Homo sapiens: one gene and its partners. The gene in region 1 interacts genetically with each later gene. Each region holds a gene or a part of one and is shown in the gene's direction. Other genes may lie near its edges.

What was found. A genetic interaction does not mean that the proteins touch.
Region 2: changes in TRPC6 (region 1) and METAP2 together harm fitness less than expected from each alone (positive genetic interaction), as found in Homo sapiens cells (one large-scale study listed by BioGRID).
Region 3: changes in TRPC6 (region 1) and UBE2G2 together harm fitness less than expected from each alone (positive genetic interaction), as found in Homo sapiens cells (one large-scale study listed by BioGRID).
Region 4: changes in TRPC6 (region 1) and ALG5 together harm fitness less than expected from each alone (positive genetic interaction), as found in Homo sapiens cells (one large-scale study listed by BioGRID).

The regions. Positions count from the first base shown.
Region 1 is NC_000011.10:101,504,008-101,507,507, reverse strand, and holds part of TRPC6 (short transient receptor potential channel 6), read left to right. Parts: intron 1-2,709; coding exon 2,710-3,484; intron 3,485-3,500. UniProt on the Homo sapiens protein: Forms a receptor-activated non-selective calcium permeant cation channel. Probably is operated by a phosphatidylinositol second messenger system activated by receptor tyrosine kinases or G-protein coupled receptors.
Region 2 is NC_000012.12:95,505,152-95,508,651, forward strand, and holds part of METAP2 (methionine aminopeptidase 2), read left to right. Parts: intron 1-3,500. UniProt on the Homo sapiens protein: Cotranslationally removes the N-terminal methionine from nascent proteins. The N-terminal methionine is often cleaved when the second residue in the primary sequence is small and uncharged (Met-Ala-, Cys, Gly, Pro, Ser, Thr, or Val).
Region 3 is NC_000021.9:44,799,021-44,803,290, reverse strand, and holds the start of UBE2G2 (ubiquitin-conjugating enzyme E2 G2), read left to right. Parts: upstream 1-1,470; 5' UTR 1,471-1,542; coding exon 1,543-1,585; intron 1,586-1,892; exon of another isoform or gene 1,893-2,007; intron 2,008-4,270. UniProt on the Homo sapiens protein: Accepts ubiquitin from the E1 complex and catalyzes its covalent attachment to other proteins. In vitro catalyzes 'Lys-48'-linked polyubiquitination. Involved in endoplasmic reticulum-associated degradation (ERAD).
Region 4 is NC_000013.11:36,951,790-36,954,340, reverse strand, and holds part of ALG5 (dolichyl-phosphate beta-glucosyltransferase), read left to right. Parts: intron 1-1,741; coding exon 1,742-1,827; intron 1,828-2,551. UniProt on the Homo sapiens protein: Dolichyl-phosphate beta-glucosyltransferase that operates in the biosynthetic pathway of dolichol-linked oligosaccharides, the glycan precursors employed in protein asparagine (N)-glycosylation.

The DNA.
Region 1 (3,500 bases):
CAAAGAAGTCAACTCAGATAAAAGAAGATCTGGGATACAGAAAACAAGGACCCCAATACAAAAGCAAAGTGAAGAGAATCCTTGGAATGATACCAAAGGAAGATTCAAAGAGAACATACATGCATCAAGTCTAGACAGCAACTGCTGTCTAGATTTTCCAAAATTGAAAAAAAAAAATACCCACTTAATATGTAGAATGTATTAAAATAAGACTTATATTGATGGAGAAGAGAGTTTGATTGAATTAGTCATATGTATATAGAGCACTGAGAAAATGAAGAGAATTTTTATCTATTAGGTTTAAGGTTATAGGGAAGCTGTACCTGAAAAGACACTATAGTATACCACTTAGCTATGATTAGCACTTGCATTGTCATGTTTTAAACAGTAAATAGTTATCTAAAAAAAAGTCATGATATAACAATTCTGGAATGATAAGGGACCATGAAGGGGGTCTGTGTGTGTGTGTGTGTGTGTGTGTGTGTGTGTGTGTGTGTGTGTTAGAGAGAGAGAGAGATACGTGAAGGTATGGTGTAATGGGAAGTCCATAGGTAATGCCAAACCTGAAAAATCAAGAAGTAACAATATAACCAAAGCTATGTGGTTATAACATTTAAAATTATAAAATAACCAGCTAAAATAGTTAAATTGAAATGTATCACCTCTGGAGATCAAGACATAGAATAAACTAAAATATGCACATGTATAACTTTACTAAAATTAAAAATGGAATTAAAAACAAAGTAATAGCTATGGGACAAAATAGTTACAGATGCTATTCTCTTATAATAAAAGTTGCATATGTATTATCTAATGACCCATTTTAGAAATTATTAGGTTGTATAACTTGATATCGGCCCTTCATGTCATTTTCGAAACTTACAAAGTTGTCTCTTTGAAAAAAACATCAGTTTGGTTGATTTTGAATAGGACTTGGATAGTTAAAGGAATCACTGTTGAATGAAAATCTATGAAAAATATTTGTCAATATGGTGGTATACTCTTCAAGCTCCTCCAAGAAGCAAAATCTGTTTGTGAGTTGCTGAAACTTTACTATCTTCCTTTCTATTCCTGTCCATCACACTGCCACAGACAGCACTGTCTGGAGATGTGGAATCAAGACTGATAAAGGCCAGTAGGGAAAGCAACTAAGATTCTCCAGACCTGAACATATTGGAGGGAAAGATAGCTTATGAGGCCCTTGGATCTTTTTATTGTCCTCTTTATACTGGGAAGTTTGTGACCGTTTTTAAAGAGGGATGCCTCTTTAGCCTCCCCTATAACCTGGCCCTGTTCCAGTTCTGCAAAAACATGCCTTCTTTGGGTTCAGTTAGTGATACTGGTAAGAGTTGAACCTCTAATTGTAATGAGATCCCTTGAAGCTCAAAAGACCTTAAGACACGAAGTTATGAATTAATAACGAAAAAATCTTCATTATAGCATTTTGATCAGAGGAAGAATCACAGCCCCCTTCCTTTTTTTTTTTTTTTTTCTTTGATATAGGATCTTGTTCTATCACCCAGGCTGGAGTGCAGAGGCATAGTCATGGCTCTCTGCAGCCTTGATCTCCTGGGTTCAATTGATACTCTACCTCAGCCTCCTGAGTAGCTGGGACTACAGGCATGTGCCACCATGCACCACTAATTTTTCTATTATTTGCAGAGATGGGGTTTTGCCATGTTGTCCAAGCTAGTCTTGACTTCCTGGGCAAGTGATTCGCCCACCTTGGCCCTGCAAGGTCCTGGGATTATAGGCGTGAGCCATAGCACCCGGCTCACTTTCCCTTCTTATCACAGATTGAAGGACTACGTTGAAGGCTGGCCACTGCTCTGACCACTGCCTGCACCATAGAAGTGTTTTTTCCTACCTGACAACTTGATTATAATTTTCTCCAGTCTGCAGTGATTTTTAGGACAGCAGAGTTCAAGCATTTATTGCCCATATTAATGAAACCTATACTCTAACATCTAGCCGATACCTCTGCTAGAGAAAACTTTCTACCTATACCTAACCCCTGTCTCACCCTCCTGAAGTACACTCTCACCTGACTTCTACTTATCCTTCCATTTTCAGCTTGTCATTTTCTCTCAGAATCTGGGATAGATGCCCCATTATAGGCTTATCATTATAATTAAGCAGCTGATAACAAAGCAGTATGCTGATTGCCCATCTCTCTCTTTGGTCTATAAGACTTGTAGAGGCAGGAAAAAGCATCTATTTGTTTTTTCACTATTGGCCTTCTTGGACCGAATATAGTTCCTAGACCTGGCATCAGAGGGACTCAATAAATATTTGTTAACTTGAGTGGATTTGCTATTGTCTCTACTTCTTAAAATGTAGTCTTATATTCTCTATCACATTGTGACTGCATATGGATAAGAGGGTATGGATATAGACATCTTTCCTAAGTCTATACCATCTATATAGTACATTAGTTTCTATCTGAATGGCACAGAGTAATTATGGCAATTGCTAGTCTCCACCCCAAATGGGAATGTTAAAATCTGCAAAGTGCTTGGCTTTCTTAGACGTGAAGTTCTTGGAATCCATTAACAAATAAATGCATCTTCATTTTATAATATAGTAGGTCTAGAGATGATGAGACAACATCTAATATACTTGAGGATTGTATTAGATGAATGGCAAGTCATTTGGCACACTAAAATGCTCTTAATGTGATTTGTTTACAATCTTTCTGTTTTATTGCAGCCGGGGATCTGACAACAGACTGGCTCACCGGCGGCAGACAGTTCTCCGTGAGAAGGGGAGAAGGTTAGCTAATCGAGGACCAGCATACATGTTTAGTGATCGCTCCACAAGCCTATCTATAGAGGAGGAACGCTTTTTGGATGCAGCTGAATATGGTAACATCCCAGTGGTGCGGAAGATGTTAGAAGAATGCCACTCACTCAACGTTAACTGTGTGGATTACATGGGCCAGAATGCCCTACAGTTGGCAGTGGCCAATGAGCATCTGGAAATTACAGAACTTCTTCTCAAGAAAGAAAACCTCTCTCGAGTTGGGGATGCTTTGCTTCTAGCTATTAGTAAAGGTTATGTTCGGATTGTGGAAGCAATTCTCAGTCATCCGGCTTTTGCTGAAGGCAAGAGGTTAGCAACCAGCCCTAGCCAGTCTGAACTCCAGCAAGATGATTTTTATGCCTATGATGAAGATGGGACACGGTTCTCCCATGATGTGACTCCAATCATTCTGGCTGCCCACTGCCAGGAATATGAAATTGTGCATACCCTCCTGCGGAAGGGTGCTAGGATTGAACGGCCTCATGATTATTTCTGCAAGTGCAATGACTGCAACCAGAAACAGAAGCATGACTCGTTTAGCCACTCCAGATCTAGGATTAATGCCTATAAAGGCCTGGCAAGTCCGGCTTACCTGTCATTGTCTAGTGAAGATCCAGTCATGACGGCTTTAGAACTTAGCAATGAACTGGCAGTTCTGGCCAATATTGAGAAAGAGTTCAAGGTAGGTCACTAACAAT
Region 2 (3,500 bases), on another chromosome or scaffold:
TTGCCTCTTAGTAAATTCACACCATTCAGCATTCTTTGCATTTCCTGTTGCCCATTATGTGTTTCTACCAAGAGCAGAAGTGATTCTTCCTCTGGAACCTGACCGTGCCTTCTATATAGACAGTTACCACCAACGTAACAGTCCTCTTTCATGTCTAAATACTGAAATTTATTACCAGACTTAAACTTTTTTTTGAGACAGTCTCTCGCTCTGTTGCTCAGGCTGGGATGCAATGATGCAATCTCGGCTCACTGCAACCTTTGCCTCCTGGGTTCAAGCGATTCTGCCTCAGCCTCCTCATTAGCTGGGATTACAGGTGCCCACCACCACGCCCGGCCAAATTTTTTTTTTTGAGATGGAGTCTTGCTCTGTCACCCAGGCTGGAGTGCAGTGGCACGATCTCGGCTCACTGCAACCTTTGCCTCCCAGGTTCGAGCCATTCAAGCCATTCTCCTACCTCAGCCTCCTGAGTAGCTGAGATTACAGACGTGTGCCACCATAGTTGGCTGCTTTTTGTATTTTTAGTAGAGGCGGGGTTTTGTCATGTTGGCCAGGCTGGTCTCGAACTCCAGACCTCAGGTGATCCGCCCACCTCGGCCTCCCGAAGTGCTGGGATTACAGGCATGAGCCACCGTGCCCAACTCTTTTTTTAGACAGAGTCTGCCAGACGTGGTGGCTCACGCCTGTAATCCCAAAACTTTGGGAGGCCAAAGTGGGTGGGTCACCTGAGGTCAGGAGTTTGAGACCAGCCTGGCCAACATGGTAAAACCCCGTCTCTACTAAATACAAAAAAAAAATAGCCAGGCGTGATGGCACACACCTGTAATCTCAGCTACTCGGGAGGCTGAGGCAGGAGAATCACTTGAAGCCAGGAGGCAGAGGTTGCAGTGAGTCAAGATTGCACCATTGCACTCCAGCCTGGGCGACAGAGTGAGACTTCGTCTGGGGAAAAAAATAAAAAAGAGTCTTCCTCTGTTGTCCAGGCTGGAGTGCAGTGGCACGGTTGCAGCCCAACCCCCTTGCTCAAGCACTCGGTGGAGTGCGCTCAGCTTCCCGAGTAGCTGGGACTACAGATGTACAGTATCATACCTGGCTAATTTTTGTATTTTTTAAAAAATATTTATTTTTATTTCTAATATATATGCTTTTTTTTTTTTTTTTTTGAGACGCAATCTCACTCTGTCGCCCAGGCTAGAGTGCAGTGGCGCAATCTTGGTTCACGGCAACCTCCGCTTCCCGGGTTCAAGCGATTCTTCTGCCTCAGCCTCTCAAGTAGCTGGGATTACAGGCATGCGCCACTACACCCAGCTAATTTATTTTTGTATTTTTAGTAGAGACGGGGTTTCACTATATTTGCCAGGATGGTCTCAATCTCTTGACCTCATGATCCGCCCGCCTCGGCTTCCCACAGTGCTGGGATTACAGGCATGAGTCACCGTGCCCAGCCTATATATGTTTTTTGATATCAAGATATTCTTCCATTTCATTGTTCTTCAAGGTTTCATTTCCCTTCCTCCTGCCTAGACCCTGTGTTGGCAGCTTTAATTCTTCTCTCATCTATATCTTTAACTTCTTTGTTATTTGATTTTCAGATATTCTCTTTAAGATCTCTAATCCTGTGAACACAAGTGCAAAGCAGAATACTTATTTATTTATTTATTTATTTATTTATTTATTGAGACAGAGTCTTACTCGTTCTGTCACCCAGGCTGGAGAGCAGTGGTGCAGTCTTGGATCACTATAAGCTCAGCCTCCCGAGTAGTTGGGATTACGGGTGTGTGTCATCATGCTGGCTAATTTTTGGACTTTTTTTTTTAGTGGAGATGGGGCTTCATCATGTTGGCCAGATCAGGCGATCTGCCCACCTTGGCCTCCTAAAGTGCTGGGATTACAGGCGTGAGCCACTGTACCCGGCCCAGAATACTCTTGATGTTACTCACACTTAGGTAGGAGGTGTGGGATAATGAAGAAAACACACTTTGGGGTTCAGGCAGTTTTTACTTGGAGTCTTAGATAAATCTGTAACCTGAATACCCAAGTTTCTTGACTGTAGTAGGGTTAATGGTATCTAGTTTATTTTGAGAAATGTAAATTGTGTGATAGTGCCTGGAATTTATTAAGTATTCAACAAATATTTGTCATTCTGTCCCCTTCTCACCCCAATTCTGGGATTAGTGCCACAAATACAGTGCTTATTCAGGCTCTTCCAAATCGCTCTTCGCATCCAGGAAATTACTTACCTGATGAGAAAAATAGCCAAACAAGCCTAACACTCTTTAACATTTTTTCCACGTTGCATAAAGAACATGGCAAAATACCAGGATTGGCAAATGCCGGGATTTGCCCATCTTCTCCCTATTCTTATGTTTTTATCTCTGTTCTTCAAGGAAGAAATATTCTGTCTTCTATACAGTATTTTCTTTAAAATTTTTTTAAATTGTTAGCTCAAACACTGCGTTAAGGATCTTCTTTTCAGTGTTAATCCTCCACCTCCTTTGAGATACCACCTTATTACGCCTTTTCTCTACATACTCAGCCTTTCCCCTAGTGGCTCCTCTCAGTGTGAAAGCACATGTGGAGGAGAATAAAAATCATAGCATTAGATAACCTTCCATGATTCTCATGATTTTTTTTTTTTTTTTGAGAGAGACTTTTGCTCTTGTTGCCCAGGCTGGAGTACAATGGTGCGCGATCTCGGCTCATCACAACCTCCGCCTCCCAGGTTCAAGCAGTTCTCCTGCCTCAGCCTCCCGAGTAGCTGGGATTACATGCGCCACCACGCCCAGCAATTTTTTTTTTTTTTTTTTTTTTAGTAGATGTGGTGTTTCTCCATGTTGGTCAGGCGGTCTTGAACTCCCAACCTTAGGTGATCTGCCTGCCTCGGCCTCCCAAAGTCTGGGATTACAGGCGTGAGGCACCGCACCCAGCCGATTCACATATTCTACTTTTGGCTTTTACTTACTGTTATGTGAAATTTTTACAATTTATTTTTACATTAAGACATGATTTAAATTTACTATGTTCCTTAGTAAGGGTAAACATACTTTTCTTTGTATCCTAGCCAAAGCCATAAGGAAAGCAAAAGATTTTTAAAGGCTAGAATTTAGAAGATCTCATTTCCAGTGTGCTTTTCTTTGGAAAATGTTTTGTCCAGTTCTTTAAATAGCTTAGAACCAGTTTTAGGAGTTGCTGCTTCTATTAACACTTTATGAGCTCCCCAGAAGCAAGATTCTTAACCCAAAGAAAGCTGAGATTAAGAGCATAAATGCCAAGTTAATTTGAGGAATTTATGGGACTAGAACATGGGCCTTCTGATTTCTAGGTTCACTGCTACAAATGAACAGAATCTATTTCCAAATTCGTGAGTCTTATGTCAACTTGGAGTACACACTGTAGCAGTCTGCTTGGGGGACTACCTCTAGAGTTAGTTATTTCTCTTTTTTGAGAATTTGCTGAAATTTTTGTAAATTCCAACACTAGCCAACATATACCAATGTCTT
Region 3 (4,270 bases), on another chromosome or scaffold:
AAGAGTATACGATGTCCAGGTACAGAGGCTGCCCCAGAAACAAGACAGAAGTAGGCAGGGACCCATGGCTCTCATGGAACACGCTTTTGGTTAGAGGCAACAGATAAGGGTAATACATTTATAGCATGCCAGTAAGTTCTATAGTACGGTGTGTTGAGTAGGTGTTGCAGAGAAAAAGGTATGCGGTGAAGGCCGGGTGGTGACGGCCTAGGCCACACTGAAGAGGCAACATTTGAGCAAAGACTGAAAGAGCAGGTGGGAAGAGTCGGGGACAAGAGCCGCCAGAAAGTGTTTCCGGGGAGGGAAGAGTCAGGGACTCTGAACCAGGCCAGGGCAGCTGGAGTGGAGTGAGAGGGAGGGAGGGTCTGGGAGTATGGCGGGGTGACCGGAGGCAGAGCAAAGCACTGCAGGACTTCAGCTTTACTGAGTGAAATGGGCGGAGCAGAGTGTGAATGTGATCAGACTTCTTTTCAAGGGATCATCTGCAATGCTGGAAAGGAAAAGACAAATGATAGATTATTGCAACAAACAGCCAGGCAAGAGATGCAAACTTTTTTTGCAAAGGTGTGTGTGTATATACATCCTTGCACCGGACAGCCACGAAGCACCTACTGTGCTGTGAAGTCAGTAAGGATGTGGGTTAAAATCGCTCACCTCACAGCGGGTCAATCGGGAAAGCACACCCACTCACTACAGCCATTATGGGAAAAAGGGCTCGCCCCTTACAGGATCCTCAACTGTGGAGAGGCCGGGAGCCCACGCGGGGCGCTGGGGAGTCTCTCAGCACCCCAGGGGTTCGGGCAGGGACCTGAGCCGCGCCCTCTCTCCCGGGGGTGCCCTGGGGTCGAGGCTGCTCGGCAGAGCCGGCGGTCAGTTCGAGCCGCGGGCCCGAACAGGGCTCTCCCCGCGGCTCTCTCCCTCGGAGTAGAAGGTGCTGGACCCGAACTCCAGCGGAGCCGCACAACACGTGGAGGAAAAGCGCCAGGACAGCTAACCTTCCCACCTTTTCAAACCTGAAACCCGGCCGGCTGGGGACGGTTGGAATGTTCAGTGCGTACCCGCACCTCAGGCCCCTTGTCTCCAGCCCCAGACCGCCCCGCGACCATCCTCCCCACCCCCCGACCTCTTATCTCGTCCCCGCCCTGTCTCCCCAACCTCCATCCTCCCCTCCACAACCCCCGTCCTCCCGCCCTTCGGCCACGCGCGGCTGGCACAGAACAGGCAGTTAGCGCACACACACTGGAACAGGCGCCACCGTTCAGGAAGTCTCTACAAGACCAGGACCCTGAGGCCTCTGGAAGTGCCGGGACCGAACCAACCCCGCAGAGCGACTAAGGCGAGGGCAGGAGCCAAGAGAATCGTAGCCGCGGTCGCGGGTTGAGCTCCCACCACCCGGACAGCGCGCCTCGGCGATCGCGCACGCGCCACGCCCCGGAAGAGTTCCTGGGCCCGCGACGGTGGCCCGGAAGCAGTCCCCGGTGTCGGGGCAGGAGGCACGCGCGCGGCTGAGGCGAGGTCGCTCGGCGCAGCTGTTGCGGGGCCATGGCGGGGACCGCGCTCAAGAGGCTGATGGCCGAGTACAAACGTGAGTCTGGGGACCCGGGCCGTCAGCAGCGTCCCGCGTTCCTGCTCCCGGGCCCGCGTCGTCCGGCGGGGCTGGGGCAGGGAGCCTGGCGGGGGAGCCGGGCCCGGGGCCTCCACCGTGAGCCCCCCTGTGGGTCCCGCGGAGTGCCGCGCCCTGCGCCCGCTGCCCACTCTCACGCGTGAAGTCGTGAAGAGAAGCCTTCCCAGCATCAGTAAAGGCAGCGCCGGCGCCGTGTTAGTTGAGAGCACACACAGTTGAGTCTTTGCGGGCTTGTTTTTTTCTCTTCTATTTTTTCTTTTCTTGGCAGCCTTGAGAACGTGCAGTGAGAGCTTGAGGAAGAAGGCCTGACTTGCTGCTGCGGAATTAGGAGGGAAAAGTGTATGCGTTAAAAGGGGAAAGGCTCGTTGGTGGAGCTTTGAAAGGTCAGATTTTGGCTTTCCCTCTAATGAAGGAAAAGGGTTTTTGAACAGTGCCACCTGTCACTCCTCCTAGGTAGTGTTGAGGAAACCTCTTGAGTGCTTTCCTACCCGGTAAATTAGATATTTCTAATGTCTGAGGAGAGCGAAGGGAGAAATGAGAACCTAGGAACACTCGGCATTCCATCGTTTTACACCGAATGCCCGCTTGGAAGAACTGCTGCGAGAAGTCTTGGAATACCATTGTGTTGAAAGCGCCAGGAGCCTGAGTCGCCGATGGAGACGAGATAGTAGCCGGCTAAGAGCAGGGCCTGAGTTCAGACCCGGCCTCTCTGCTTGTTAGCTCTTTGACCTTGTTCCTCTCTCTGTCTCTGCAGTTTCCTTGTCTTAAAAGGTTAAACTTGATACTGCAGGTGAAGTGCTTAGCAAAATACCTGATGTGTAACCCTTAATAAAGTTAGCTGCTGCTTTTGTAATTAGATTGAGGATAATTTTGGAAGAAAGTTAAGCTAAAAGAATGAATGTGAGAAAAAAAATAAGTGGTGAATATACATGTAGCTTGATTTCGTAAAACTATTGGTGACACCGCCCAGTAAGAGTTGATGTTTGGCTTAAGCAGACCAAAACGTTGCAAATACAGGCTCACTCACGTATGGTCATTCTTCCCTTGGTATCTGGAGGGGATTGGTTCCAGGCCCCGCTGCAGATACCAGAATCCTCGGATGCTCAAGTCCCTACTATAAGGTGGCGTGGTATTTGCATTTAATGTATGCATAGCCTCTCATAACTTTTAAATCATCTCAAGGTTACTTATAGTACCTAATGCAATGTAAGTGCTGCACAAATAGTTACACTGATTTTTTTTACTTGTATTTTTAAATCGTCATTTTTTATTGTTATTTTTTTCAAATATTTTGTATTCCTGGTTGGTCGAATCCATGGATATGCAGCCGCAGATACACAGGGCCTCCTGTAAACGTTCAAATAACGCTCGCCACCTAGTGTCTGCTAAAGCAGAACATAAAGGCACACCTCAGTTTCCCGCGCGCTTTGCTTTATTGAGCTTCACTTCGCAGATCTTGCATTTTTTACAAGTTTACAAGTTTTTTACAAGCAACCCTGCATGGAAGCAAGTCTGTTGGCACCATTTTTGCTCGCTTCGTGTCTCTCTCTTACATTTTAATCTATTACTGTGATCTATGATCAGTAATCTTTGATGTTACTATTGTAATTATTTTGGGGCATCACAAACTATGCCCATAAAAGATGGTAGTCCTAATAAATGTTGTGTGTGCTTCACTGACTGGCTGTTTCCCCATCTCTCTCCCGGCCTCTCTCTTCCCTGAGACAAAACAACATTGAAATTAGGCCAATAGTAACTGTACAGTGGGCTCAAGTGTTGAAGTGAAGAGTTGCACTCTACCCACTTCAAATCAAAAGCTAGAAATGATTAAGTTTAGTGAGGAAGGAATGTTGAAAGTCAAGATAGGCTGAAAGCTGGGTCTCTTGTTAGCCAAGTTGTGAATGCAAAGGAAAAGTTCTTAAAGGAAATTAGAAGTGCTGCTCTGTTGAACACAATGAATGATAAAGTGAAAAAGCCTTACTGCTGATATGGAGAAAGTTTTAGTGGTTTGGATAGAAGATCAAACCAGCCATAACATTCCTTTAAGCCAAAGCCTAATCCAGAGCAAGGTCCTAACTCTTCAGTTTTATGAAGGCTGAGAGCAGTGAGGAAGCTGCAGAAGAAAAATTGGGAGCTAACAGAGGTTGGTTCATGAGATTGAAGTAAATAACCTGTCTCCATAACAGAAAAGCACAAGGTGAAGCAGCAAGGTCTCCAGAAGATCTAGCTAAGATCAAGATGAAAGTGGCTCCTAAATTAAGCAATAGATTTACAAGGTACGTAAAATAGCCTTATACGGTATTGGGAGGAGATGATGCCATATACAACGTAAACAGCTAGAGAGAAGTCAATGACTGGCTTCAAAGGACAGGGCGACTCTTGTTAGGGGCTAATGTCGGTCACTTTAAGTTGACTGAGTTGAAGCCAGTTCTCATTTATCATTCAGAAAATCTTAGGGCCCTTAAAAATTATGCTAAATCTACTCTGAGCTCTAGAGATGGAAAAACAACCTGGATGACAGCACATCTGTGTACAGCATGGTTTACTGAATATAAGCCCACTGTTGAGACCTACTGCTCAGAAAAAAAGATTATCTTCAAAATACTATTCCTGACAGTGCACCTGGTCACTCAAGAGCTCTGATGG
Region 4 (2,551 bases), on another chromosome or scaffold:
GAGATGAAAATTCAAAAAGAGGGCTAGATAATAAAATTGAGGAAATCTCAAAAGAACAAAACTAGAAAAGAAGAAGATAAAATTATAGGACTAGTAAGGAATATCTGGGCCTATGCTCCCAGATGTTCAGGAGGCAAAGGTGGGAGGATCACCTGAGTCCAGGGAGGTTGAGGCTGCAGTGAGCCCTGATTGCGCCACTGCATTCCAGCCTGGATGACAGAGTAAGACCCTGTTTAAAACAAACCGAAAAACCCTTTTGGTCTAGGATTTTTTTTTTAATATAAGGTGATTTCAGTTAACCACCCCACTCTTTTTTACTCAATTGTTTTGTGTATTTGATAAGTCACTAGCTATATACTGATATCCTTAGAAATAATATATAATAATCTTTTTCAGGTTATCAAGTATCATTAGAACTAACTCAGCCCACTAGCTAATATTTTGTTTTTGTGTTAAAAGGAAAGTTAAGGGTAAAGCACCAGGCTTAATATTGAAATTATTTCTTTTTTCATAAGTATCACAATTCTAGGGGACGAAAGTTTTAAAATACAACCCACTTTTGTAAGTGGTTTTATCATAATACTTGGAATTTAAACTATTTACCTAATGGATGATTATGGTATTGTGGCAAAAAACCAAAAAATCTCCCAAATTCAAGTTGTCTGGGATTGGAGAAATCAAATATAAGTGGACTTTAGGCATTTTCTTGTCTGTATTAATAATGTTTTACACCAGGCCCTAGAAGTTTGAACTGTGCTCTGTGCAGCCTAGAAAGTGGGGACTGACTCATGGATGAAGGCAAAACAGTCAAGGACTTTAGACAGTTTCAATGACGATGAAGAAGATTTAACAGGTAGTAGTGCTTTTCTTCCTGAGCTTTAATACCAGTGAGAGAAGCAACTAGTTCAGAGAAATTTTGTAAGCAGAATCCAGGAAAACTTATGAGTCAGGATTCAGAACCTTTAAGGAAAGCAGGTTTGACCTAAGCCAAGGCACTGACTGAAAAGAGGCTTTAAGAAAGACCTTTCGTAAGTGGAAGGAAGGATACACTGGAGATTTAGACTGGAAATGGTTTTAACAGTATATATTAGGACAAGTAAGACAATATATCAGATTCCTATGTATGTATTAATTATACCCAAAGAGTATTTCAGACTAGTCCAAAGTAGCTTTTTACTTTCAATAGTTGCCAGTATTATATTGTGCAGGACACCACAGGGAAGGGGAACAGAAAAGACAAGGAAGGCCCTGGGGACACTATTAGAAAAGTAATCTGGATCCTCTGATGGTAGAAGAAAATAGGCAACCAACTCTAAAGTAATGTAAAACAGTCTCAACTAGAGCATCTCAGAGTTTTGTTTTATCAGCTGTCTGAATCAGTTGAAAATGTCAGTTCTTTACCTTGAGCTAGTCCAGTTAAGGTTAGGATTGAAAACCATCAATCTTGAAATTTTCCAGGATTAAATTTTTTCTTGGAACCCATGAGGCTAGTTTTACCTCTGTGAGTTTCTGAGTTGTAATAGAGATACAATATTATGCAATGATATTCTAAATTATTATTTGACTTGAAACTTCTGAACTACTCAGCTTTGAATTATTTGATTTCTGTGAATCTGATCTTCAGATTTATGGTATAAGCTTTATATCTGCCATGTAAGCTTCTTTAAAACATGCCAAGGTAGAGATGTAGTTGTGTTCTATTTGTCTTTAAAAATAAATATCAATATATTTTCTATTTTAGGGCATTTGATGTAGAACTACTGTACATAGCACAGTTCTTTAAAATTCCAATAGCAGAAATTGCTGTCAACTGGACAGAAATTGAAGGTGAGTATATTGTTTATTGTATGATTGTCTTGAGTCAGATAATACAGTTGTTTAGTAAAGTCAGCTGGCTTTAATGTTCTCCTTGCTCCCCTCATCAAGCCCTTCTCAGCTGTCTTGACTCAAAGATCCAGTTCCAAGGAGAATAGTACCTACTAATACCTTCCATCTGGCTTGCTGCCTTTTATATTTTTTGTCTGTTCATGGGGCCTTCAGTAGGCCTACTACCTTGTCGAAGAAACTTCAATAAAACTTCCTACAATAGACAAAGTCATGGTGATCTGAAATTAGAAGGTTGATAGTCTTTTGAGATAGATAAATTTATTTTTTGCATCACCATTTCCTATATTTTTTTTATCACTAGGTGGATATTAATTAGGTACCTGCAAACCACTATGCAAAGCTAAATAAGAAATAAAAATTTTTTTTATGGCCGAGCACCATGCCTCATGCCTGTAATCCCAGCACTTTCGGAGACCGAGGGGGTGGATCACCTAAGGTCAGGAGTTCAAGACCAGTCTGGCCAACAGGGTGAAACCCCGTCTTTACTAAAAAATACAAAAAGATGGCCGGGCGTGGTGTCAGGCACCTGTAATCCCAGCTAGTCAGGAGTCTGAGGCAGAAGAATTGCTTGAACCCGAGAGGCAAAGGTTGCGGTGAGCCAAGATTGCACCATTGCACTCCCGCCTGGGCAACGAGTGAAACTCCATCTGAAAAAATAAATAAC